7 linked regions of the Homo sapiens genome follow. The protein of the gene in region 6 purifies or fractionates together with the protein of the main gene of each other region. This does not show direct contact. Each region holds a gene or a part of one and is shown on either strand. Other genes may lie near its edges. The genes, in order: DPYSL5, TRAPPC9, MAPK9, COL6A2, TFCP2, TAFA3 and PPP1R10.

Region 1 (3,500 bases), on a different chromosome or scaffold from region 6:
GGATTTTGAAGAAGACTTGCATTACAGATCTCCAAAAGCATATAATTTTGCACTATTTCTAGCACAAAATATGGCCCTGGCCTACCGTTGGCCATCTTCTCCCTCCATCTTCACACAGTCTTTCTTCCGTGTCACACATGTCTGGTGTGTCTGTCTCCTCTTCTTATAAGGACACCGATAAGACTGGATTAGGGCCCACCTATATGACCTCACTTTATCTTAATGATTACATTAAAGGCCCTAAATAGTGCCATGTTCTGAGGTTCTGGGTGTTAGAACTTCAGCAGAAGAATTTTGAAGGGAGCCAATTCAACCCATAACAACCAGCCTTTGGGGCTCACCCCTCCCATGGAGCTGTGACATTTTGACCTGTCCTCAGCGCTTTCTCTCCCGCCATTGCCTCCCCACCAGGACCATCTCAGCCAGCACGCAGGTCCAGGGAGGAGACTTCAACCTGTATGAGAACATGCGCTGCCACGGCGTGCCACTGGTCACCATCAGCCGGGGGCGCGTCGTGTATGAGAACGGCGTCTTCATGTGCGCCGAGGGCACCGGCAAGTTCTGTCCCCTGAGGTCCTTCCCAGACACTGTCTACAAGAAGCTGGTCCAGAGAGAGAAGGTGAGGTGGGAGGAGGAAGATGCAGGGGTGTTGGCGCCCCCTGCCGGGGAACATCCTCCATGACTGTTTTAAATCTCAAAGAGATGTTCACTCCAGTTTTCGACCCAATTCCATTGCACTTTCTCCAGCGTTGAGAGGGGAGTGTGCGGCAGCGCCAGGGAACGCTAGAGTCAGAAAATGCTGATTTCTGTTCCCCGTCTTTGATTACCAAGTGGCATTTTAAGTGGTCAGGCAGCAGGGCTCCTGAGTTGCTGAGGGCACAAGTGGGAAATGTGAGTGTGTGCGACCGCTGAGCTCCTCTGGATACGCAGGCTTGGGGTGGAGGAGGTGCTGGGGGCTGGAGATGCTGCTTTGGCTCGGCTCCCTCCCACTCTTGATGAAGCAAGCGGGGGGTAGAGCTGGCATTTGCAAAGCATTGTCTGAAGCACAGGAGGAGCAGGCACCTGAACACGGGAGGCCCACACTGCTGGCACACAGAGCACACGAGAGGGCTCAGAGCTTTCAGAGAAACCAAGGACCCTTCTCTCCCAGAGGCCAATGAGTGAAGAAATCCACTGCCAGGTCTGCCGTGGGAGCGCAGGCTTGGGCTGCCTGAATGAAGAAAGCGTGACTTTCGTGATCGCAGGGCTAAATCCAAAAGCAAACTCAGGGTCTCTTACTCATCACACTCAGCTAATGTTTACTTTTTTGTGGAGATGGACGGGGTTTAACCGTGTTGCTCGGGTTGCTTTCAAATTCCTGGGCTCAAGTGATCCGTCTGCCTCGGCCTCCTAAAGTGCTGGGATTACAGGCGTGAGCCACTGTGCGCGGCCCAATAACACTTTTTAATACGATGTAGGACCATAAATGACCTCTGCAGTAATAACTGCTCGTACTTCTGTGTTGCCTCTCATGTGCCAGAGCAGTTGGAACAGCTTTACACATATTAATTCGTCTGCTCTCCTGCAACTCTCTGATGTAGGTATAGTATTATGGGCACAGAAAAGTAACTTGCACAAAGCCACACAGTTTACAAGTGACAGAGTTGGGATTGGAACCTAGGCAGTCTGGTTGTAGAATATAGACTCCTAACTCTACTGCCTTTGTGAGTACAGAATTAGCTAGTATTGCTACTGGGGGCCTCTCATCTCCAGATGGGGCTGTGTTTAGCCTCTGTTCCCTCAGAGTTGTCAGACCAGTAAAGGGTGTGGCTTCGTGGGAGCCTAAGGTGGGGAATAACGTTGCGCTGTGTGGGAGGGCGCTCTCTAAAATTGACTTCCGGTTGGGCATGGTGGCTCACGCCTGTAATCCCGGAACTTTGGGAGGCCGAGGCGGGTGGATCACGAGGTCAGGAGTTCAAGACCAGCTGGCCAAGATGGTGAAACCCCGTCTCTATTAAAAATACAAAAATTAGTCAGGCACGGTGGCAGGCGCCTGTAATCCTAGCTACTTGGGAGGCTGAGGCAGGAGAATCACTTTGCGGGGGCGGAGGTTGCAGTGAGCCAAGATCGCACCACTGCACTCCAGCATGGGCGACAGAGTGAGACTCTGTCTCAAAAAAAAGAAAAGAAAAATTTGGTTAAAGTTGACTTCCTCAGATGTCTACCTGCTACCTCGGTGAGGCTTCCATCAGTGTTGAGGGGGAGCCAGTATCTCTCCCATACACATGCATGCACACACACATGTGCACTCACATACATGCACGCATGCACACATGTACACATATGCACATGCTCTTTAGGAGGTATGAGAAAACTCCAGCCCCTGGACTCAATGTTTAAGAAGCCTTGGTCACTTGCAGTGATTTGGGTCTTGGGCAGAGTGGCAGTGTCTAATGTCCCACCGGCCCCCAGGGAGGCCATGGTTGTATCACTCAGCTCTGATGGTGTTGTCCTGTTCTTCTGCTCTTCTTCCATCCTTCCCTAGACTTTAAAGGTTAGAGGAGTGGACCGCACTCCCTACCTGGGGGATGTCGCTGTTGTCGTGCACCCTGGGAAAAAAGAGATGGGAACCCCACTCGCAGACACTCCTACCCGGCCCGTCACCCGGCATGGGGGCATGAGGGACCTTCACGAATCCAGCTTCAGCCTCTCTGGTAAGAGTCAGGGGGCCACGGGAGGAGGATGGGGGTCTGGGAGAAGTGGCCCACCTAGGCAGTGGGACTTACGCCTGCTTTTCTTTTGTGTCCTCTCCTCCCTCCCGTTGCCTATTTCCAGGGATGAGTGCTGGTTTGGATATTAGACTCACATAGACATTAGTGGGGACAGGAGGGCTGTCCTGGTCCCTGGGCACAGACGCTCTAATAGGCCATGGCCCACCTGGGGCTCTGCTCGGGGTTTCTAAGTTCAGATATTTTTGTCCCTTGAAACATCTTGAGGGCTGTGCACACAGTGGGTGCTCCAGAGATGCCCTGAGCTCAGAAGAGTCAGCCCTGTCTGTGGTTCACGGGACTGCACCGACCAGCCCTTCGCCCACCCCAGCCCACTCCTCACCAGCCTCTCTACTCCTTCTGCTACCCCCTCTCCTCCTCTGACCTTCCCACACCTTTCCCCGCCTTTGCCTCACCTTCACCTTCTTTTTTTTTTTTTTACCAGGAATTGTATTGTATATATTTTATTAACTTTAAGTAAAATATTTTCTCTCGACTTCTGATGCCCAGTTTTTTCTCTTATCTTTCTGTCCTTTGGGTCCTGGCCCCAGTCCTTCTGTGGAATCTCTGGGTTCCTTGGGGGGTGCGATCCCAGTTCTTAAAGCCACGATCTGCAGTTTCCCGCCCCCCCGTCCCCCCCCGCACCCATCACCATGCGAGCCACGGGCTCATAAATGATGATCCTCAGTGGAGAACAAGCAGAGGCTGTAAGATGCCTCGGGCCTCCAGGTGGCTTAGGTGGGAACTGTCACC
Region 2 (3,500 bases), on a different chromosome or scaffold from region 6:
CCACTGATAAAGATTCAAGAATCCGAGCCCCAAGGCAAAGCACCAGTACTTTTTCCTATAATCGGATTACAGCAGGCACCCAACTCCAGGGCAGGGATCTAGTCATTCTGGAGCCACCAGCACCAACCACGATGTCTGCCACTCAGGGCAGGGGCTGAAACAGCATGTGACCATCAGACAGAAAGCAACACCTTAGCGCCAGCAAGGGGACTCCAGTACCTCTGCTGAAATCTTTGGGATCCAGCGACAGACTGTAGCCGGGCAGCGTTTCCAGGAGGAGTTTGTAGCAGGCCCTCCACCCAGGCTCCGCGATGCTTGGGGCCACGCACTGCATGGCGGCCACGCGCTTGAAGAACGCAGACTTGCGATGGAAGCCGATCAGCTCATAGAGCTCGGAGAGGATGCTGTAGCGCTGAATTTTCTCTTCCTCAGAAAGCTGAAGCACAGAGAGAAAGTAAAAAGCTTTTGAAAGAAACGTATAAGTGAAAAAAGAAGCACACATTAAAAATGTCTCTTCATAAAACAAAGACCTGAGGAGAATCGAGGAGAATCAAGGAGAGGGAAAGCCTGGTGAGCAGCGCATGGCGCAGGCCCCAGGTGGCTTCAGACCTTCCCCAGCCACAGCTGCAGGTGCAGCCCATCTTCCTGCTGATAAAGCCCAGATTCTCTGCTACAAAGGTACCTGCTACAAATCTGAGACCTCTACTTTAAGTTCCTTCACAAAAGAAAAGAAAAGGAACAAGAGTTCATCTACACAACAGGATTTTATCAAGGTCTCTCATCAAACACAAAAATTCTTAAAACACAAGAAGACACAGAATCATGTAACTGGGTAATGAATTATTAACAATACCACTGATATCAGACTTAAGACTTCAGGGTTTACAAAAGTTTTCTTTCATCCAAGACCCAACTGAATCCTCCCAACAACCCTGTAGTGTAGCAATCATAACTTCTGTTTCTTTTCTTTTTTTTTTGAGACGGAGTCTCACTCTGTCACTCAGGCTGGAGTGCAGTGGTACGATCTTGGCTCACTGCAACCTCCACCTCCCGGGTTCAAGAGATTCTCCTGCCTCATCCTCCAGTGTAGCTGAGATTACAAGCACCCACCCCCATGCTGGCTAATTTTTGTACTTTCAGTAGAGACGGGATTTCACCATGTTAACCAGGCTGGTCTCGAACTCCTGACCTCAGGTGATCTGCCTGCCTCAGTCTCCCAAAGTGCTGGGATTACAGGTGTGAGCCACCACGCCCAGCCAACAACTTCTGTTTCTTCAGCACCTACTGTATGGCAGCAGACTTAACGTACCTGATTTACTCAATACAAGCATCCTGTGAGCTGGCAAATAAGGACATTAACAGCTCAGGGACACATTAATCACCTGTGCAAAATCACACAGCCAAGAAGTATCAGGGACAAGACCTGACTCTGGGCCTGGGCCCTGCCCACTGCACAGCGCCTTCAGAGAAGAAGGAAGGCAGAGCCCACTCTGCTGCTCCAGGAGCACTGTTAAGGAAGCGCTTCTCTCCCTCCTCTGCCCTGGACGATGAATGTTTCCCTGATGTTTCTGTGAGTACAGAGCCTTAGCTTGAACGCCCTTCCAACTTGGGCCTCCAAACCCTCCCTCCATCCCCTCTCCTCCGCGCTCACTGCCATGGCCTCGATGGGGCCCTCGTCAGCCCTCATCTGGAAGAGGAATCGGCATTGTCTTCCTACCACCTCTCGACCTTCCTTCACCTGTCCACACACCCCTGCCAGACTTAGGTTCCTGAGACATGGCTCAGAGCCCATCACCCGAGCCACGGTTTGAATGTTTGTGCCTCCCCAAAATTCACATGTTGAAAGCCTAGCCCCCAAGGTGATGGAATTAGGAGGTGGGGACTTTAAAAAGTGATTGGGTCAGGGGGTGAAGCACTCACAAATGGAATTAGTGCCCTTATAAGAAGAGACCCTAAAGAGCTAGCTCACCTGTTGCACCATGTGAGAACACAGAGAAAAGACGGCGGTCTATGAACAAGCAAGTGGGCCCTCCCCAGACACCAAACATGCTGGCACCTGGATCATGGACTTCTAGCCTCTAGAACTGTGCACAATACATTTCTATTGTTTATCAGCCACCCAGTCTGTGGCATTTTGTGACAGCAGCCTCACCGGACTAAGACAATCCCCATCTTGAAACCACTAGACCCCTTCAGGACTGTAAAATGGAGCCCAAATGCCTTCACGGGCATGCCAGGCCCTCCTCAGCCCCAACCTGCTCTGGAAATTCGAGGCCCCACTGCCTACCTATGACCTCACCAGACTGAACAACTTTAACTCATTTGTTTTCTCATTCTGTCAACACATATTTACTGAACCCCTACTCTGGTGCCAGCCACTCTTGTGGCAGAGGATACAGCAGTGAGCAAAACAAGCTAAGACTCCTACCCCTGGGGGCCTCCATGCTAATGACAGGCTAGTCCCCTGGCTTAGAATCAGTGGGGAGGATGACAATAAATCAATGAAAAAATAAACAAAATAGCTGCTCTAAGTCCAATGAAATACTCTTTGACATAGAATCATGGGTGGAAGCGTATGAGGCAGGCTGTACTAGGTGACGCCGCCGGGGCACACAGGCTCTCTGCTCCTGCAATGCCTCCACAGCCACATCTGGCTCTCCCTTTGGACACTCGGTTCCAATGCCACCCTCTCCAAGAAGCTGGTCCTCATGCCCTTCAGCGGGAAGCTGCTGCTTCTTTCCCTAAATTCTCCTAACCATGCTGGACTCCATAATGTCCTTTCTCTGTGTCTCCCACACAATTTACCTACATATCGGATCTCTGCCAGCCCCACTTTTCCTACAGTGAAAGGTCATGCCGACGCCGACGATGTGTGAGAATCCCTGTTGCTCCACCTGCTCACCAGCATATGAGGATATCACCTGCTCACCAGCATATGAGGATATCACCTGCTCACCAGCATATGAGGATATCAGTCTTTTTTATTTTAGACGTTGTGGTGGCTTTAACTTCCATTTCCCTGAAAACTAATGATGTTGAACCTTTTTCATATGATCACTGGCCACTGGTATATCTTCCTTTGTGAAGCGCTTGTTCAAATCTTCTGACAGTTTTTAAAATTAGATCGTTTGTTTTATTACTGAGTCGTACGAGTTCTGTATATATTCTGAATGCAAGTCCTTAGTTATATGTGTTTTGCAAATATTTCCTCCCGGTCTGTTGCCGATTTATTTCCCTAAGGGAGTGTTCATAAGCAAAAGCATTTCTCTGTGATGTAGCTCAATCTATCAGCTTTTTCTTCTATGGTTAGTGCCTTCTATGTCCTCATCTGAGAAAAATCTTTGCCCGAGGTCACAAAGATATCCTATGTTTTCATCTAGAAGTTGTTGTCTAGGTCTATGGTCCGTGAATATTCAAATTTGAGTAGGACATGGCCTGTCCCTTTCCAGGAGTGTGCAGTACAGCAGCGAACAGAAGCCCCAGTGCTGGAGGACAGCAGC
Region 3 (3,500 bases), on a different chromosome or scaffold from region 6:
TCATCTCTCTGGAATGCTTCTAGTCCTTTTAAGCAGAGAAAAGAAAGTGAGCCACTGAGTGTCCTTCCACTCCTGTGGTATTAAGTACTAAACAGCCTGAAGTGCTTCAAACACAGACGTCAGATGAACTTGGCTCATCCCAGGCACAAAGCCACAAGCACCATGAATGACGTTAAGTAACATGACTAAGGCTGACTGGTGAATTCTCCTGGCCACGCCTCATGAGAAAACAATTACACCAATACTCTGAATTGGACCTGCATATTGGTGAAGTCAAAACTTACTGCCATTAGTTTTGAAAACACAGATTTAGGAATTTGCAGAATATTTTCAATAAGAGAACAAACAGCAATGTTTCTGCCTCTCAGTGTGAAACCTCTTGCTAATATTGATCAAAAGCATGACACTTTATCATCTATCTGTGTTCATGTTAAATCTGTCATCAGAGATGGTGATGGAGAAATATCTAATTGCCATGTAAAAACACACAAAAATTGGACATGCTATACATTTATCTTTTAAAATGTAGTCTGTATTATTTTCACCAACCAAAACACACATAATATATTTTATTATAAAACATTAGCAATGTTACTTTTGAGATATGCAATCTGAAAGGTCACACTTGTATTTATTACCAGGAGGAAATACCAGAGGAGTCACATTAGAAATCAACCAGACAGACTCGTACGTGGTTATCGCTACTTACACAGCATTAAATGCGGGTTGAAGCAGCACCCGCTCCGTGTTTCAGACACGGACTTGGGGTGGGCAAGGGGCCCTGTAAGAGGGCTTCCTCCTCTCAGTACTGGGGCTCTGCGTCTCACCTGCTCCCATCTCCAGGCCCACGGCTGACACGGTATGCACAGCCAGGGTTTCCAGACTGCTCTCCTGCTCTCACAGAACTCTGTCTGCTCTCTGGACTCTGCCCTTGAAACTGAGACCTGGACATGGGGGAGACAGTCGTTTCCTTCTTGGCTGGAAACTAAGTCAACAAATGAAACAAACCTAGTCTAAATTCCAGGATAATAGTAAATTACCTGGTTTATAAAAATACATGTCCAAAATAGTTACTTCCTGGGTTGTGTACAATATAAATTACAAAAATAAAATAGAAAAGATGAAACAGTTGAGCACATTTTTCAGTTCTTTAACCAACATCAGCATTTATCCATAGAGATCAGTTTGAAACCATTTGCGTGGCACCAAGACCCTGGCAAATCTAGGCTCAGGAGAGAGAACCCTGAAGCTGGGGTGAGGTATTTCTGTGGAGCCCTGTGGCCTGTCCTAGGCACGCTCGCCTCTACCTGGTGGAAGATGGCCTTTCCAGGAAACCCTCCACACCGTCACGGGCTCCATCTGTGGCAAGTGGCTCGCTGAATGCACAGAGGAGCGAGTGAGCAGAAGGGCGTCTGCGGGTGCCTCGTCCCCCGTCCACGTCTCCCGGGGAGGGAGCATCACACAGTGCAGGGCAGCTCGCGCATTTTCAACCTCTCCCTTTTGTTTTTCCTTTTAAAGATAGATTTAGTGAAGTCTTTTAAAAGAAAGTGTATTACAGAGAAGGCCATTTTAAGATGTTTAGATAGATAGCCATAAAATAGGTGTTTCCGCCTCAATCCAAGTTATTATTACCATTTTGTACTTGAAAGTGTCCAAATGACACAATATAAAAGAACTATTTCTTATTTCAATATTAATTTTGCTAATCAAAGGTTCCAGTTTCCAGTGATATGACCAACCAATAAGATATAACTGGTGCAGAGAGAGCCATATATTTTACATAATATTTATAATAAACTTTCTTATCACAGTTCCTCCTCAGAACACACTCTACAGAATGTCGACTGAAAAGCTTCCAAAATAATTGAACACAAGATATGAATCAGCAACAGAATAAGCTCAAGGGAAGAGACATGGGCACAGGCAGGCAAAACGTGATCACCACAGCTCCGTTCCTGCAGTGACACTTAACATACTCAGCATCTTCATGAATTCTGAATAATTTACTGATCGTAAAGTCTAAAAGTATCAATTTCAGGTGAGCAGTTTTAAATCAGAAAATAGTCAATAGTTAATCATGACTCTTCAGGGTATTTCCTTCACGTCCTCTGAAGAGTTTCCCAGAACATTCTTGTGAAAAGGAATGCCTCCCAACAATGGAGAGCAACAATAGCAACAGGCATCTGAATCAGCCTGGCCTCTGAAAACAGACCAAAGAGGAGTTTATCTGCTTTCTTCCAGTGAAGAAAGAAAATCAAGAACGTGGTATTGGCCGAGGGAAAGTGAATGAGGGAAGGTAAATAAAGGACCCAGGCCAGTCTGTGGCAAAGGAAGCACTTAGGAAATGACTGCAGTGATCTCTAGTGAGCATTTTGTAAAATTCCACTCCAACGTTAGGCCATGGATGCAGGAACCTATCTGCCATCATATTTAATTAAGATGGAGTGTTACGCACCTAATAAAGAAGGTGAAGTTCTAGGTAGCATTTTAAATTCATAAGAAGTCTAGAAGACCAAGAAGAAAAGAGATAAGGTAGCTAGGATTTCAAGCAGCACTAAGCAAAACTTAAAATTGTATCGTGCAGTAAAGCTGAATGTACAATCATCCCAGACAAGACAGTTTAAAGAAAACAAGATGTCCACATAAGTGTCTTGGTTTTAGCCGTGATAATTCTCAGCCCCAAACATCACAAATCTAAGAAAAGCTATATATTTTTATTTATTAAATAGATTTAATTATATGTCTTCTGAAATACAAAAGATAGAATAAATCATAGCATAAAAGGGAATAAGATATGATAACATCATGATGGCCAATTAATACACATAAATCGACTTTTTCTGGACAGACACCAAATTACTTAAGAGGATTAAGAGATAACTTCAGAAGCAGCACTACCTGGAAGATTATTTGGCATTTAAATACTGATTTCCAAAGTGCTAGATGGGCAAGTCCAAGCAAGCATTTGTGGTCACATGCACATACATCTCAACAGTTACAGATGATGAGAAACTGTCACTAGTACAATTTGAAACAAATTCACCTACTCTAACTGCTCACCTGAAATGATCTTGAACAAAATCTCTAGAAGTGTGGCTTGCAATTTTTTTCTTCAGACATATTCTGCCTCATTTTATCATCTAAGCAGGCAATCCTATCAGGTCTGAGTAGGGCAAGGCATTGTGTTTCTTACATGCAGAACATGGAGTTTTTCTATTTGGTTCCATCAACTCCCAAGCATTTCAGGCCCACGGAGGTGAGAGTTCCTTCAATGCTGACAGGTTTGCTATTTCTAACCTATCATCGACAGCCTTCAAGGGGTCCCGTCGAGGCATCAAGACTGCTGTCTGTGTCTGAGGCCAGCGTCTGCTCAGTGGACATGGATGAAATGTCATTGATCGATGAAGACTGAGAAGGAGTGGCGTTGCTACTTACTGCTGCATCTGTGCTAAGAAAACCAAATATAATAAAATCTGAGGCACGACATTGCTGCAAATCCA
Region 4 (3,500 bases), on a different chromosome or scaffold from region 6:
AAAAATATATATATATATAGACAGAGAGAAAGAGAGAAAGAAAGAGAAAGGAGGGGAGATTAGGGAGAGAAAATTTAGTGAGCCACTTAGAAAAATATATCATTGATGAAAAGAGTCAAACTCTGTAAAATATTTTAAGAGATTTATTCTGAGCCAAATATGAGTGGCCATGACCCATGACACAGCCCTTAGGAGGTCCTGAGAACATGTACCCAAGGTGGCTGGGGTGCAGCTCGGTTTTATTCATTTTAGGGAGGCATGAGACATCAATCAAATACATTTAAGAAATACATTGGTTTAATCCAGAAAGGCAGGAAAATTCAAAGCGGGGAGAGATGGCTTCCAGGCTACAGGTAAATTTAAACATTTTCTGGTTGACAATTGGTTGAGTTTGTCTAAAGACCTGGGATCATAGAAAGGAAATGCTCAGGTTAAGATAAAAGACTGTGGAGACCAAGGTTCTTCTGAAGTCTCATAGTGGCTGCCCTTAGAGACAATCAATGACAAGTGTTTCCTACTGAGACCTTTAAAAGCTGCTAGACTCTCGGTTAATCTCTTCAGAATTGGGAGGGCCTGGAAGAAAAAGAGCTAGCTATGTTAACAGAGATTCCTTACAGATGCAAATTTTCCCCAGTAAAGGACAGCTTTGCAGGGCCATTTCAAAATGTGGCAAAGAAACATGTTTTGGGGTAAAATATTTTTATTTTCTTCTTGGTCGTGTAGTGTCATGCCAGAGTCAGATGGAAAGTAAGTCACAGCATATAGGGTTAGATAAAACCATCTGATGAGAATTTATGGTTTGTAGGGCATGACTCCCCAGACCCCTTAGATAAGAATATAGGCAAGATAAAAAAATCAGAGCTTAGTCCTCAACATACAAAAAGTTATTGATTTTCTTCTATCAGTTAGAAGAAACATTTTCTAACAACCAGTTAGAAAATGTTGCAGAAAAATGCTATTTACACTAGTAAGAAAAACAACATAAACCCAAGGAATCAACTGAATAAAAATGTGCAGGACTTATGAAAAAAACTCAAAAAAATTTTTGAGAAATATATTGGAAAGACAAACCTTGTTTTTGGATAAGAAATCATCCCACTATCTTAAACTGATTTAAAAATATCAGTTATTCCTAACTGAATCTATAATAGAATGCAATTTTAATTAAAGTTTCCAAGAAAATTTTTTGCATTTTTGTAGATAGGAGTTTGCAAAATGAATCCAAGTTTTACTTGGTAGAAAAAGCAAGAAGAGTTGAGCAAAATAAAAAATAGAGTGATGAGAAAGCTTGTGCTATCAAATGAAACGATAAAATTACAGTTTTGGTTTTGGTGCTGGAACAGGCCAACACTCCACACAACCATGGGCATAACAACACACGAGAACTTAGGCTATGACATGGTGGCCTTTCAGAGTGGTGGAAGCAGGCTGGGATGAGGGCTCACCCTGTGACTAGAAATAAAGGTACTACCTCACATGGTGCTCCCAAATAAACTCCAGGAAAAGGAAGTATCTGAGTGCAAAACAGGAACCAAAAAGTCTTTGAAGAAAACAGAATGTATAAAATGTCAATGAAAAATCTATAATAATTGTGTACCAGATACTGTCCTATATCCCTTCATTCAACATTCACAATTGGACTTATGGCCTTGGACATAGGTACTATTACCATCCCCACTCCAACAGATGAGGAAACCAAGGCCCAGTGAGGTAACTTGCCCAGGGCACTCAGCTAATAGCTGAGGTCTGAAGCCTGGCAGTGTGGGCTCAAGTCTGCCCTCTTGACACTGAGCTCCCACATATGACCATCATTACAACAAAAGCAATATGAGCAGACTGGAAGCAGACTGAGAGCCAGCAACAATCTTCCCAGTGTAAGATATAAATATTTTGATGGACTGTTATTAGGTGCATAAATATTTATAATTATTATATCTTGCTGTATTGAGCCTTTTATTAATATATGATGTCCTTCTTTCCCTCTTGTAACCTTTTTTGATTTAAAGCCTATCTTGTCTGGTATTAGTATAGCCACTCTTGCTCTCTTTTGGTTACTATTTGTGTGGCATGTCATTGCCCATCCTTTCACTGTCAATCTATTTATGTTTCTGGATCTAAAGTGCATCTCTTGTAGAGAGCATATAGTTGGATTTGGCTTTCTAAATCCATTCTGCCAATCTCTGTCTTTTAACAGAGAGAGTTTGGAGAGTTTAATCCATTTACATCTAAAGTAATTACTGATAAAGAGGGACTTCTTTCATTTTGCATTTTTTTTCTGTATACCTTATGGATTTTTTTGTCCTTAATTTCCAGTATCACTGTCTTGTGTTTAATTAATTTTTTTGATGGTGAAACATTTAAATCCCTTCCTCATTCCCTTTTGTATTTATTCTTTAGTTATTTTCTTTGTTGTTACCATGGGGATTGCATTTTAACATCCTAAAATTATAACAGTCTACACTGAATTTATACCAGTTTAGCTTCAATGGCATAAACAAAACTCTGCTCCCTGAATGGCTCTGTCCCCAACCCTTTTAGTTATTGATGTCACAAAATTACACCTTTATATATTATGTGTCCAAAAGCATAATGTTATTTTTAAATCAGTCTCTTAAATTATGTAGAAAACAAAAAGCAGCATTACACACCATTGTTACAGCAATATTAGCTTTTATAATTGTCTATATATTTACCTTTACTGAGATATTTATTTATTTATTTATTTTGAGATAAGGTCTTGCTCTGTTGCCCAGGCTGGAGTGCAGTGGTGTGGTGACAGCTCACTGCAGCTTCAACCTCCCAGGCCCAAATGATTCTCCCACCTCAGCCTCCCCAGTAGTTGGGACCACAGGTGTGCACCACCATGCTTGGTCGATTTTTAAAAATATTTTTATTTTATAGAGATAGGGTCTCCCTATATTGCTCAGGCTGGTCTTGAACTCCTGGGCTCAAGTTATCCTCCTGCCTCGGCCTCCCAAAGTGATGGGGTTACAAGCATGAGCCACTATGCCTGGCTGAGATCTTTACTTCTTCACTTGAATTACTGTCTATCACCCTTTATTTCAACCCGCAGGACTCCCTTTGGCGTTTCCTATAGGGCAGGTCTAGTGGTAAGGAACATTCTCAGCTTTTGTTGATCTAAGAATGTGTTAATTTCTCCCTTACTTTTAAAGGACAGTTTTGCTGGATGTGGGCTTCTTGGTAGACAGTTTTTATTCTTTTAGCACTTTGGATATATTGGCCCACTGCCTTGTGGCCTTCAAAGTTTCTGATCAGAAATCTGCTAATAGTTTTATTGAGGATTCCTTACATGTGATGAATCATTCTTTCTTGCTGTTTTCAAAATCTTTGTCTTTGGGTTTTGACAATTTGATTAGAATGTTTCAGTGTGGGTCTCTTTGAGTTCATCCTGCTTGGAGCTTTTTGGGCTTCTTGGATGGTTATATTCATGTCATTCATCATATTTTAGAAGTTTTCAGCCATTATTTCTTCAAATAGTC
Region 5 (3,500 bases), on a different chromosome or scaffold from region 6:
CAAAAAATACAAAAATTAGCTAGGCATGGTGGCACGAGCCTATGGTCCCAGCTACTTGGGAGACTGAGGTGGGAGGATTGCCTGAATCTGGAAAGTGAAAGCTGTGATGGTGCCACTGCACCCCAGCCTGGGCAACAGAGCAAGACCCTGTCTTAAAAAATAATAGTAATAAGGCCGGGCGCGGTGGCTCACGCCTATAATCCCAGCACTTTGGGAGGCCAAGGCGGACAGATCACCTGAAGTTGGGAGTTCAAGACCAGCCTGACCAATGTGGCAAAACCCTGTCTCTACTAAAAATACAAAAATTAGCTGGGTGTGGTGGTGTATGTCTGTAATCCCAGCTACTTGGGAGGCTGAGGCAGGAGAATCGCTTGAACTTGGGAGGCAGAGGTTGCAGTGAGCCAAGATCACGCCACTGTACTCCAGCCCAGGCAACAGAGCGAGACTCTGTCTCAAAAAATAAATAAATAAATAATAATAACAATAATAAAATATTAGAAAGAAGGCAGGGTATGGTGGCTCATGCCTTTAATCCCAACACTTTGGGAAGCTGAGGTGGGAGAATCGCTTGAGCCCATGAGCTCAAGACAAGCCTGGGCACCATAGTGAAACCCCCATCTCTACAAAAAATAAAAATAAAAACAGAGATAAAAAAAAGAAAGACCTTAAGTCAATACTCTAACTTCAGACCTTAAGGAACTAGAAAAAGAAGCACAAACTGGACCCAACCAAAGGGAGGGAATAACAATGTTTAGAGCAGAGATAAGTGAAATAAAGAATAAAAATAAGGCAGGTGCAGTACCTCACACCTGTAATCCCAGCGCTTTGGGAGGCTGAGGCAGGAGGATCGCTTGAGGCCAGGAGTTCAAGGCCTGGGCAAGACAGTGAGACCCCATCTCTATGAAATTAAAAAAAAAATTAGCTGGGTTTGGTGATGCATGCCTGTAGTCTCAGTTACTCAGGAGGCTGAGGTAGGAGGATCACTTGAGCCCAGCAGTTTGAGGTTGCAGTGCATATGATCACACCACTGCATCATTCCAGCCTGGGTAACAGAGCACGGCCCCATTTCTCAAAAACAAACAAACAACAACAACCACAAAAACCAAGAAGAATAAAAATAGTAGAATCAACGAAACCAAAAATTTGTTATTTAAAAAGATCAACAGAATTTACAAACTCTTGGCCGGGTATGGTGGCTCACGCCTGTAATCCCAGCACTTTGGGAGGCCGAGGCGGGCAGATCACAAGGTCAGGAGTTCAAGACCAGCCTGGTCAACATGGTAAAACCCTGTCTCTACTAAAAATACAAAAATTAGCTGGGCACGGTGGCAGGCACCTGTAATCCCAGCTACTGGAGAGGCTGAGGCAGGAGAATTGCTTGAACCTGGGAGGTGGAGGTTGCAGTGAGCTGAGATCATGCCACTGCACTCCAGCCTGGGTGACACAGCAAGACTCCATCTCGAAAAAAAAAAAAAAAAAGTAATTAACAAACTCTTGTCAGACTGACTGGGAGAAAAAGAAAGAAGATGAAATGAAAATAAATAAAATCAGAAATGAAGCTGGGGATATTACTACTAATTTTATATAAATGAAAGGATTATAAGAGAATACTGTGAATGACTAAACCAGCATATTAGATAATTTAGATAAAAGAGACAAATTTTTAGAAACATTAAAGTACCAAAACTGACTCAGAAAAAATTAAAAGTCTCAACAAACCTATAATAAGAGATTGAATTGATAAACAAAAACCTCCCAACAAAGAAAAGTCCAGTATCACATGGCTGCATTGGCAAATTCTACCAAATATTCAAAGAATTAACACCAATCCTACTCGAACTCCTTCAAAAAACAGAAAAGAATGGAACACTTCCTAACGTTCTATGAGGCCAACATCACCCTGACACCAAAGCCAGAAAAAGATACGATAAAATTCAGGCTGGGCATGGTGGCTCACACCTGTAATCCTAGCACTTTGGGAGGCTGAGGCAGGAAGATCCCTTGAGTCCAGGAGTTCAAGACCAGCCTGGGCAACATAGGGAGACTTGGTCTCTTAAAAAAAAGACATGATAAGAAAACTATAAACCAATATCCCATATGAATATAGAAATAAAAATCCTCAAGAAAATAACAGCAAACTGCAAACTGGATCCAACAGTACATTAAAAAGATTATATACCATGACCAACATTTATCCCAGGAATGCAAGAGTGGTTCAACATAAGGAAATCAATCAATGTGATACACCACATTATCATCTCAACAGACACAGAAAAGATATTTGAAAAAATTCAATACCCTTTTAAGATTAAAAAAAAAAACACTCAGCAAAAGTTCAAAGACATTATGCTAAGTGAATAAGTCAGTCACAAAAGGACAAATATATGATCCCACGTATATGAGGTTTTTAGAGTAGTCAAATTCATAGACACAGAAAGTAGAATGGTGGTTGCCAGAGGCTGGAGTGGGGGGAGATGGGAAGTTAGTGTTTAATAGGTACAGCATTTCACTTTGGGATGAAAAAGTTCTGAAGACAGATCATGGTGACAGTTGTACAACAACGTAAATGTACTTAATTACACTGATCTGGACATTTTTAAAGGGTTAAAATGATAGAATTTTATGTTATGTGTATTTTACCACAATAAACACACACATACACACATATTCAGCAAACTAGGAATAGAAGGAAACTTATTTAACACTAAAACGGCATTTATGAAAAACTCTGAGTAGGGCATGGTGGCACATGCCTGTAGTCCCAGCTACTCAGGAGGCTGAGGCAGGACTGCTTGATCCCCGGGAGTTCGAAGCTGCAGTGAGCCATGAACATGCCACTGCACTCCAGCCTGGGCAACAGAGTGAGACCCCATCTCAAACAAACAAACAAAGAAGTTGGCCAGGCATGGTGGCTCACATCTGTAATCCCAGCACTTTGGGAGGCCAAGGCAGGTGGATCACCTGAGGTCAGGAGTTTGAGACCAGCCTGGCTAACATGGTGAAACCCCGTCTCTACTAAAAATACAAAAATTAGCTGGGTGTGGTGGTATGTGCCTGTAATCCCAGCTACTTGGGAGGCTGAGGCAGGAGAATCGCTTGAAGCTGGGAGGCAGTTGCAGTGAGCTGAGACCATGCCATTGCACTCCAGCCTGGGCAACAAGATCGAAAACTCCATCTCAAAAAATAATAATAATAATAAATAATAAATAAATAAAAGTTAACATCTGTGAACAGCCTGGGCAACATAGCATGACCCTGCCTCAAAAGAAAAAAAAAGGAAAGAAAAAAAAGATGACATCTCTGACTGTGGGTCACTATATTAACAGATGCTTAAAGTTGTTTTTCAGGAATTAGGGGACAGCTCTTACCCAGTTGAGACCACCAATCCCTCAACTGGACCTGCATGAGTGCCCAAAAAGTGACCTTTTCATGTCAGAGGGACAAAAACTCCACACTTAGATCATGTTAACACTGCCATTTTCTGCACATGGCCTATGAAG
Region 6 (2,916 bases):
AAAAAAAAAAAAAAAAAAAAAGAGCTTAAAACAGAACTACCATTCAACCCAGCCATCCTATTACTGGTATATACCCAAAGGAAAATAAATCATTTTGCCAAAAAGACACATGCACTTGTATGTTCATCAAAGCAGTATTCATAATAGCAAGGGCATATAATCAGTCTAGGTGCCAATCAACATTGAATAGGATAAAGAAAATGTGGCACTTATATACCATAGAATACTACACAGCCATAAAAAAAATAATGTTTTCTGTAACACCCTGGTTGCAGCTGAAGGCCATGATCCTAAGGGACTTAGCATGGCAACGGAAAATCAAATACCACATGTTCTCACTTCTGAGAGCTAAACATTGGGTACACATGGACATAAAGATGGGAACAGTGGACGATGGTGACTACCAGAGCAGTGAGAGAGGGAGGGGAGCAAGGGCTGAAAAACTACCTATTGGGTCCTATGCTTACTACATGGGTAATGAGATCAATGGCACTCCAAACCTCAGTGTCATGCAATATACTCATGTAACAAACCTGCACATGTAATCCCTGAATCTAAAATAAAAGTTGAAATATTAAAAAAAAAAAAAAAAAAAACATAGTCGAGAATGGGAAAAATTATAAGATAATTGAGGGAGGAATTGCTACTTCTACCTGAGCTCCAGGTACAGTAGTCACTCTGTCACTCACCTCTGCCGTGACCATCCCCCACCCCCACCCCATTCCCACTGTTGTTGACTCCCTACAGTTCATACCTACCCTCCTCTAGTCAGATTTCTCTGTCCACTGTCACAGCACCCAAGAGGATTATTATTTTCATGGTTTGCTGCCTGCTCCACAGAACAAGGGGTAATTAAATTTTTTATCAAACTCGTTAGCAGCTCCATGTGTGTCATGGCTAATCAGCCGCATTGCTCTGCCGTCACCATTGGTACAGAAGAGTGACACTGCAGGGCAAGCCAGGGTTCTGCCTTTGGCTTTCCTTCCCTCCCACCACACACAGCAAACAAGCAAACACATAAGAAAATAGAGAAGGAGGGCTGGGTGCGGTGGCTCATGCCTGTAATCCCAGCACTTTGGGAGACAGAGGTGGGTGAATCAAGAGGTCAGGAGTTCAAGACCAACCTGGTCAACATGGTGAAAACCCGTCTCTACTAAAAATACAAAAATTAGCTGGGCATAATGGCACACGCCTGTAATCCCAGCTACTTGGGAGGCTGAGGCAGGAGAATTGCTTGAACCTAGGAGGCAGAAGTTGCGGTAAGCAGAGATCATGCCACTGCACTCCAGTCTGGGCGACAGAGTGAGACTCCATCTCAAAAAAAGAAAAAAAGAAAAAAAAATAGAGAAGGAAAGGCAGCCTTTGGCTTCTGAAGAGAGCAACCATTTTCACAGAGCACACAACAAAAGGAGCTACAGCAAGAAAAAGTTTGGCTCTAAAGTAGAGCATCCTCTCTCTATCCGGAGGCAGGGATGAGGGACAGCCATTCTGAGTATATTTAAGATCAGAAGAGAATGAGACCCACTACAGAGCTTGTGACATTTGTCACCATGTTATAGGTTTGGGTTTGTGGCCTGTAAGGAAGTGCTTGCAATTTGGGTAGCTACTCTGAAGCAAACAGTGGGGAGGCTTGTCTGACGTATGTTTGCATGGGTCACCAGGCCATGCTTTCCCATTCCGGCCTGCTTTAGGGTGAGAGGATTGGCAGCAATGTCCTCTAAGTGACCTGCATATTCTGGGTAGTCTCTGGCATGCTGGAATGGAATAGGCATTCCCTTCTCTAACCTTACCCTCTCGCTTCTTCACCAGGTCACACGATAGCTCTTGGGGGTCACGGCCTGGACAAGAAAGGCTTGACTGAGCCGTGAACTGAAGAATGGTATCCAGTCATCAGCCAGGAAAGATGGGGATTCACTTACATGCCTCATGTCAAATGCAGCATCAGTCTTTCCGGGGCATTTCAGTTAAGCTGCTCAGCAGATATGGATGGATCTGCAATCACATACCTAATGTGGAGCTGGGCTTTTCTGGAGACACGAAGGTCAACACACAATTCCTGCCCTTAAGGAATGTCCAGTTGAATTGGAGAGTTGATGACAGACAATTTAGATAATTTAGGTTAAAGTACTTGATACCAGACTGCGGCTTCTGGGCCACATGCTATGGCATGATGGGGGTTTGGGAATGAGATTCCCACAGTTCTTCAGATACCCTGTGGCCACAGGGCATAGAAACAAGAGGTCACATTCAGCACCCACCACCTCCCTCTTTCGCATCAGTTCTGAATCCCCAGCAAGCTGTTAACATGTTGCAGGAAAACACTCTCCCCTTATGCCAGACCAGCAGTATCTCATTTGGATGGGATTGGATTGACTTGCGGAAGGAAAGTAAAAATAAAGCCAAATAACTTCCCAAATCTTTGGCACAGGTATGGGCCATTCATTGGGTATGGGATGGACAGGACTTTAAAATCATCTCCATCCAAGCACCTCAGGTTTTTGTTTGTTTGCTTATTTTAACAGATGAGGAAGCAGCTCCAGAGAGGTGAGGCAGTTTGCCCAAGATCTCATAGCCTGGGCTCCCAGACCTCTAAGACTGATGACTTTCCACTAGCCTGAATAATAGGATTCCAACGTAGGCCTCCCATGTTAATTTTATGTCAAGTTACTGGAACCAGCAAAGTACAGGCTGGACAGCAGCAACATTTTTCTTGGGAGATGCTAGAGCAGAGACTTTTACTAAGGTCACTGTTCTCCTGTCTGAAATAATCCAGAATATCCACACACCGGGATGTGGGACCATCTGGTCTCCACTCTACTCTCATCCTCCAAATTTCAAGCAGGCCTTATGACACCCAGAGGTCACTCAACTCAGTTACAGCTGGGGCTCAGCTGGCATCTCCATTGCCCACTCTGA
Region 7 (3,500 bases), on a different chromosome or scaffold from region 6:
CATCACAACTTCCATCATCACAGAACATTGACTTACCTCATCTAGGGGGATGAGTTTAGGGGGTATGGGCTCGTAGGGCTCAGGATCAGGCTCATGAGGACTATCAGGAACAACACAGGTGAGAGAAAAAAGAATGATAGTCAAGTTATTAATTCAGACCCTGAAAGTAATTTCTAACCTCCACCCCGTAATTACCCCAGCTCATGTTCCCTCAGGAGTGTCCAAGCACTCAACATCCCAGGGCACGAACCCCACTCTGCTCACCTCTCCTTGTTCAGGAAGAGCTCCTGAAGGATTCCCTTCTCCCGCTCAGCCTGGATATATCGCTCCTGACTATTGCTTCCAGGGGTGACAAGAGGTGAGGGCAGAACCAGGGGCCGGGGGCACACCCAGGGCACCTTCTCCTCCATGTTATCATGGCTCAGACGCCGCGCTGTCTCAAATGCATGTCGGTCTGACAGTATCTCTCGCTTAGCCGCCTCACCAAAGTCCTTGATCTTATTCACATTTACTGTCGGCAGGGGAAGAAAAGCAAGAGGGAAAGTAAGCACAACCAAGTCCTTTCAAAATCCCTTAAACACACCTATTACGTAGGAAATGACCTCTTACCTCGTTCAGTTTCATCCAATTCAAAATAGAAATATTCTCTCAGTTTGCCTTCCTCAGGCCATGTCACACTTTTCCTCTTCCTGCCTTTCCGGGTCAGTTGGTTAGGATCTCCAGGACTCTCCACTGGCTTGGCATCCAGAGCTCCTGGCTCCAAAGAGGCTGGAAGCAGAAGAGGTTTCAGACCCAGATCCCTCCTTTCAGAAAACCCCCCAAACTGAACCAGTTTCTAGATTACCTGTATCCATGAGCTCCGGGACTTCAACAGGGGGAACCGGGGTGCCTGGACGGTCTGCGTCCATTGCCTCAGAAGGTGGTGCTGGTTCTGGGGAAGAAGGTTTGGCTGTGCTTGGTTCTGTGCTCGTTTTCCCTTCAAAGGGGCTTGGCTATTGTGAAAGAAAAGGAAGTTAATGAACTGACTGGAAAGCCAAGGGCAAGGCAATTAGTCCAGGGTCCCAGGCACAGTCCCCCAACAGTTCCTATATAAAGGAAGACTCTGTCTCCACAATGTCTCACCTGCACCAGTCTATATCCAAGGCAAAACGCCTCTTGTTGTCCTCCCCGACAACTCCTAGCTGCTGTGCCCTTTCTTCTACTTTACCTTTTATACTCTGTCACTGAAACCTACTTCTGGGAGCCCATACCTTGGCAGCCGTAGGTGACAGTACTTTTTTTTTCTTCTTAATTTTGATGCCTGGAACAGGGGCTGAATTAAGAGCATCCAGAAAGCCCAGGCCCTCCATAGCTACAAAAAGAAAGAGCACCAAATGGCATCATCAGACCTCCTTCATAATCCTACACCTGCAAACACAGTCCAGGCATAAAATGAGCCAGTGAAGACCCTGCCTCAACTTAGGACACGATAAGCTCAAGAGGACCAGGAAGCACATGCAGGAGGATTCACACAGGATATTCTTGTTGTTATTCTAGGTTTCTCATGGCAGGCAAGCCATAGCTTTGGATGTGAATTATAGCTCAGGTAGCTGACGAAGTGAGCCCTTGTGAACATGACAGATCACCTTACCAGGTGCCCCTGACCAGTCACAGAATGGCACACGTCCCTATCTTATCTCTAAAATTACTCCTAAGTGACCCCTGAAACGGGAGTTCCAGAGGTACAAAAAGTAAGGGATACCAAGAAATCAAAGGAAAATGGAGGGAAATAATAAAAGAGAAGGGAAAAAACTTCTCGTTCCCAGGGACATTCATTCCCATAAGAGTTTGCTCCTGGCCAGGTGCGGTGGCTCATGCCTGTAATCCCAGCACTTTGGGAAGCTGAGGTGGGTGGATCACGAGGTCAGGAAATCAAGACCATCCTGGCTAACATGGTGAAACCCCATCTCTACTAAAAATACAAAAAATTAGCCGGGCGTGGTGGCGGGCACCAGTAGTCCCAGCTACTCGGGAGGCTGAGGCAGGAGAATGGCGTGAACCCGGGAGGCGGAGCTTGCAGTGAGCCAAGACCGTGCCACTGCACTCCAGCCTGGGTGACAGAGTGAGACTCTGTCTCCAAAAAAAAAAAAAAAAAAGTTTGCTCCTAATTCAAAGTACATCTTCCCCACTTTAGACTCACGCTGTGGCGGGATGATCTTCACTTTGATCTCTTTGGTGGCATTAGGTGTTGTGTTGAGTGGCTTGTATTTCTTCTCTGCAGGGGGAGTGGCATCTCCTGGAGCAGCTACGTTGCTGTCAGAAGAGGAACTGTCATCAACATCTCCGACTCACCCCCTCCTGCTCCCTTGTGTCCACAGATCCACCCCATTCAGAGCCTGAGAATATGGTCCATACCTCTGACGTTTGAGGGGGATGGGTTTAAGGTTGTACTTGTCAGAAACCACCACTGTGCTGGCATTCTTCTTCACAGGCACCAAGGATGGTGTCTCCAGCTCTAGTCCTGGGGAAAGAAGCACGGTGTGGGCAGCTGAACTCAAACCCCAGACCCCCGAATTTTCCTCCCGTTCTCACCCGCAAATGTTCTTCTAGCCTTGTAACCAAAGCTTCCTCTGCTAGTCTTCCCTCTTCCTTACGATTAACATACCACACATCAAATGATTCCCCCATAAGGCTCTGGGTGTGCACATGCCCATGAACCCTCCAGAGGCCAGCCGCCAGTCTTACCAGTGGAACGGAACTTGGCATGACTGGGTGCTGTGGTGCGAAGAGACTTGGGCTTCTCCCTCTTCTTCTCTGGGGCCTCCTCAGCCCGGGTCTCAGCCTTCACCTCTGTCAAAGGTCGCTCAGGAAGGGTAGTTCGACTTTTTCCTTCATCTTTACGTTTCTTCTTATCTTTCTCTGTTGTGAAAAAACAAAGCAGAAAAGGATTTTATTTAGATGAACACTGTCAGAGGTGAAGCAGACTGGGAGCACCTAAAGGCCACATCCCAATAGGAAAGAAATAAATACAAAGGATAAAGGACTAAGGAGCTTACCAGCAGGCTGGGTACTGCTCTGAGAGCGGATGACAGCCATCCAGTCGCTGACAAGGACTGAGGCCAATTTCCGGAGCTCTGCAGGTGACAGAAAGGGGAAATGCCTAAATAATGTAAAGTAACATTCTTCCAGGAACAGAAAATGGGAGGTTTGAGAAAATATTGTGAAAATTTATGTAACGGAGAAAGTAACCCAAAGTTTTAAGAAGAACATGAGATATGCTTAAAAACCAAACCCTTAAAAAATGGAACAATGAATTAGAGTTGTGTTCTACTTGGATAACTTTCAACTCTGATGTCATCACACCACTCTGGAGTAAAAAGACCTAATATTTCAGAATATGTGGTTAAAATCTACATTAGTAAAAGACTACACGTTGGGTGCAGTGTACACTGCTTGGGTGATGAGTGTACCAAAATCTCAGAAATCACCATTAAAGAACTTATACATGTAACCAAAATCCA

The links.
Region 1: the proteins of TAFA3 (region 6) and DPYSL5 purify together in Homo sapiens (affinity purification with mass spectrometry; 2 studies listed by BioGRID and IntAct, with this or other methods). This does not show direct contact.
Region 2: the proteins of TAFA3 (region 6) and TRAPPC9 purify together in Homo sapiens (affinity purification with mass spectrometry; 2 studies listed by BioGRID and IntAct, with this or other methods). This does not show direct contact.
Region 3: the proteins of TAFA3 (region 6) and MAPK9 purify together in Homo sapiens (affinity purification with mass spectrometry; 2 studies listed by BioGRID and IntAct, with this or other methods). This does not show direct contact.
Region 4: the proteins of TAFA3 (region 6) and COL6A2 purify together in Homo sapiens (affinity purification with mass spectrometry; 2 studies listed by BioGRID and IntAct, with this or other methods). This does not show direct contact.
Region 5: the proteins of TAFA3 (region 6) and TFCP2 purify together in Homo sapiens (affinity purification with mass spectrometry; 2 studies listed by BioGRID and IntAct, with this or other methods). This does not show direct contact.
Region 7: the proteins of TAFA3 (region 6) and PPP1R10 purify together in Homo sapiens (affinity purification with mass spectrometry; 2 studies listed by BioGRID and IntAct, with this or other methods). This does not show direct contact.

Annotation. Positions count from the first base shown.
Region 1 is NC_000002.12:26,942,132-26,945,631, forward strand, and holds part of DPYSL5 (dihydropyrimidinase-related protein 5), read left to right. Parts: intron 1-411; coding exon 412-619; intron 620-2,524; coding exon 2,525-2,693; intron 2,694-3,500. UniProt on the Homo sapiens protein: Involved in the negative regulation of dendrite outgrowth.
Region 2 is NC_000008.11:140,370,745-140,374,244, forward strand, and holds part of TRAPPC9 (trafficking protein particle complex subunit 9), read right to left. Parts: intron 437-3,500; coding exon 220-436; intron 1-219. UniProt on the Homo sapiens protein: Functions as an activator of NF-kappa-B through increased phosphorylation of the IKK complex. May function in neuronal cells differentiation. May play a role in vesicular transport from endoplasmic reticulum to Golgi.
Region 3 is NC_000005.10:180,233,084-180,236,583, forward strand, and holds the end of MAPK9 (mitogen-activated protein kinase 9), read right to left. Parts: intron 3,449-3,500; coding exon of another isoform or gene 3,444-3,448; coding exon 3,301-3,443; 3' UTR 60-3,300; downstream 1-59. UniProt on the Homo sapiens protein: Serine/threonine-protein kinase involved in various processes such as cell proliferation, differentiation, migration, transformation and programmed cell death.
Region 4 is NC_000021.9:46,104,612-46,108,111, reverse strand, and holds part of COL6A2 (collagen alpha-2(VI) chain isoform 2C2 precursor), read right to left. Parts: intron 1-3,500. UniProt on the Homo sapiens protein: Collagen VI acts as a cell-binding protein.
Region 5 is NC_000012.12:51,163,136-51,166,635, forward strand, and holds part of TFCP2 (alpha-globin transcription factor CP2), read right to left. Parts: intron 1-3,500.
Region 6 is NC_000001.11:112,724,820-112,727,735, forward strand, and holds the end of TAFA3 (chemokine-like protein TAFA-3 isoform 1 precursor), read left to right. Parts: intron 1-1,809; coding exon 1,810-1,821; coding exon of another isoform or gene 1,822-1,861; 3' UTR 1,862-2,416; downstream 2,417-2,916. UniProt on the Homo sapiens protein: Plays a role in the regulation of microglia polarization.
Region 7 is NC_000006.12:30,603,744-30,607,243, forward strand, and holds part of PPP1R10 (serine/threonine-protein phosphatase 1 regulatory subunit 10), read right to left. Parts: intron 3,114-3,500; coding exon 3,036-3,113; intron 2,899-3,035; coding exon 2,725-2,898; intron 2,501-2,724; coding exon 2,395-2,500; intron 2,293-2,394; coding exon 2,180-2,292; intron 1,352-2,179; coding exon 1,251-1,351; intron 993-1,250; coding exon 845-992; intron 769-844; coding exon 610-768; intron 512-609; coding exon 265-511; intron 101-264; coding exon 37-100; intron 1-36.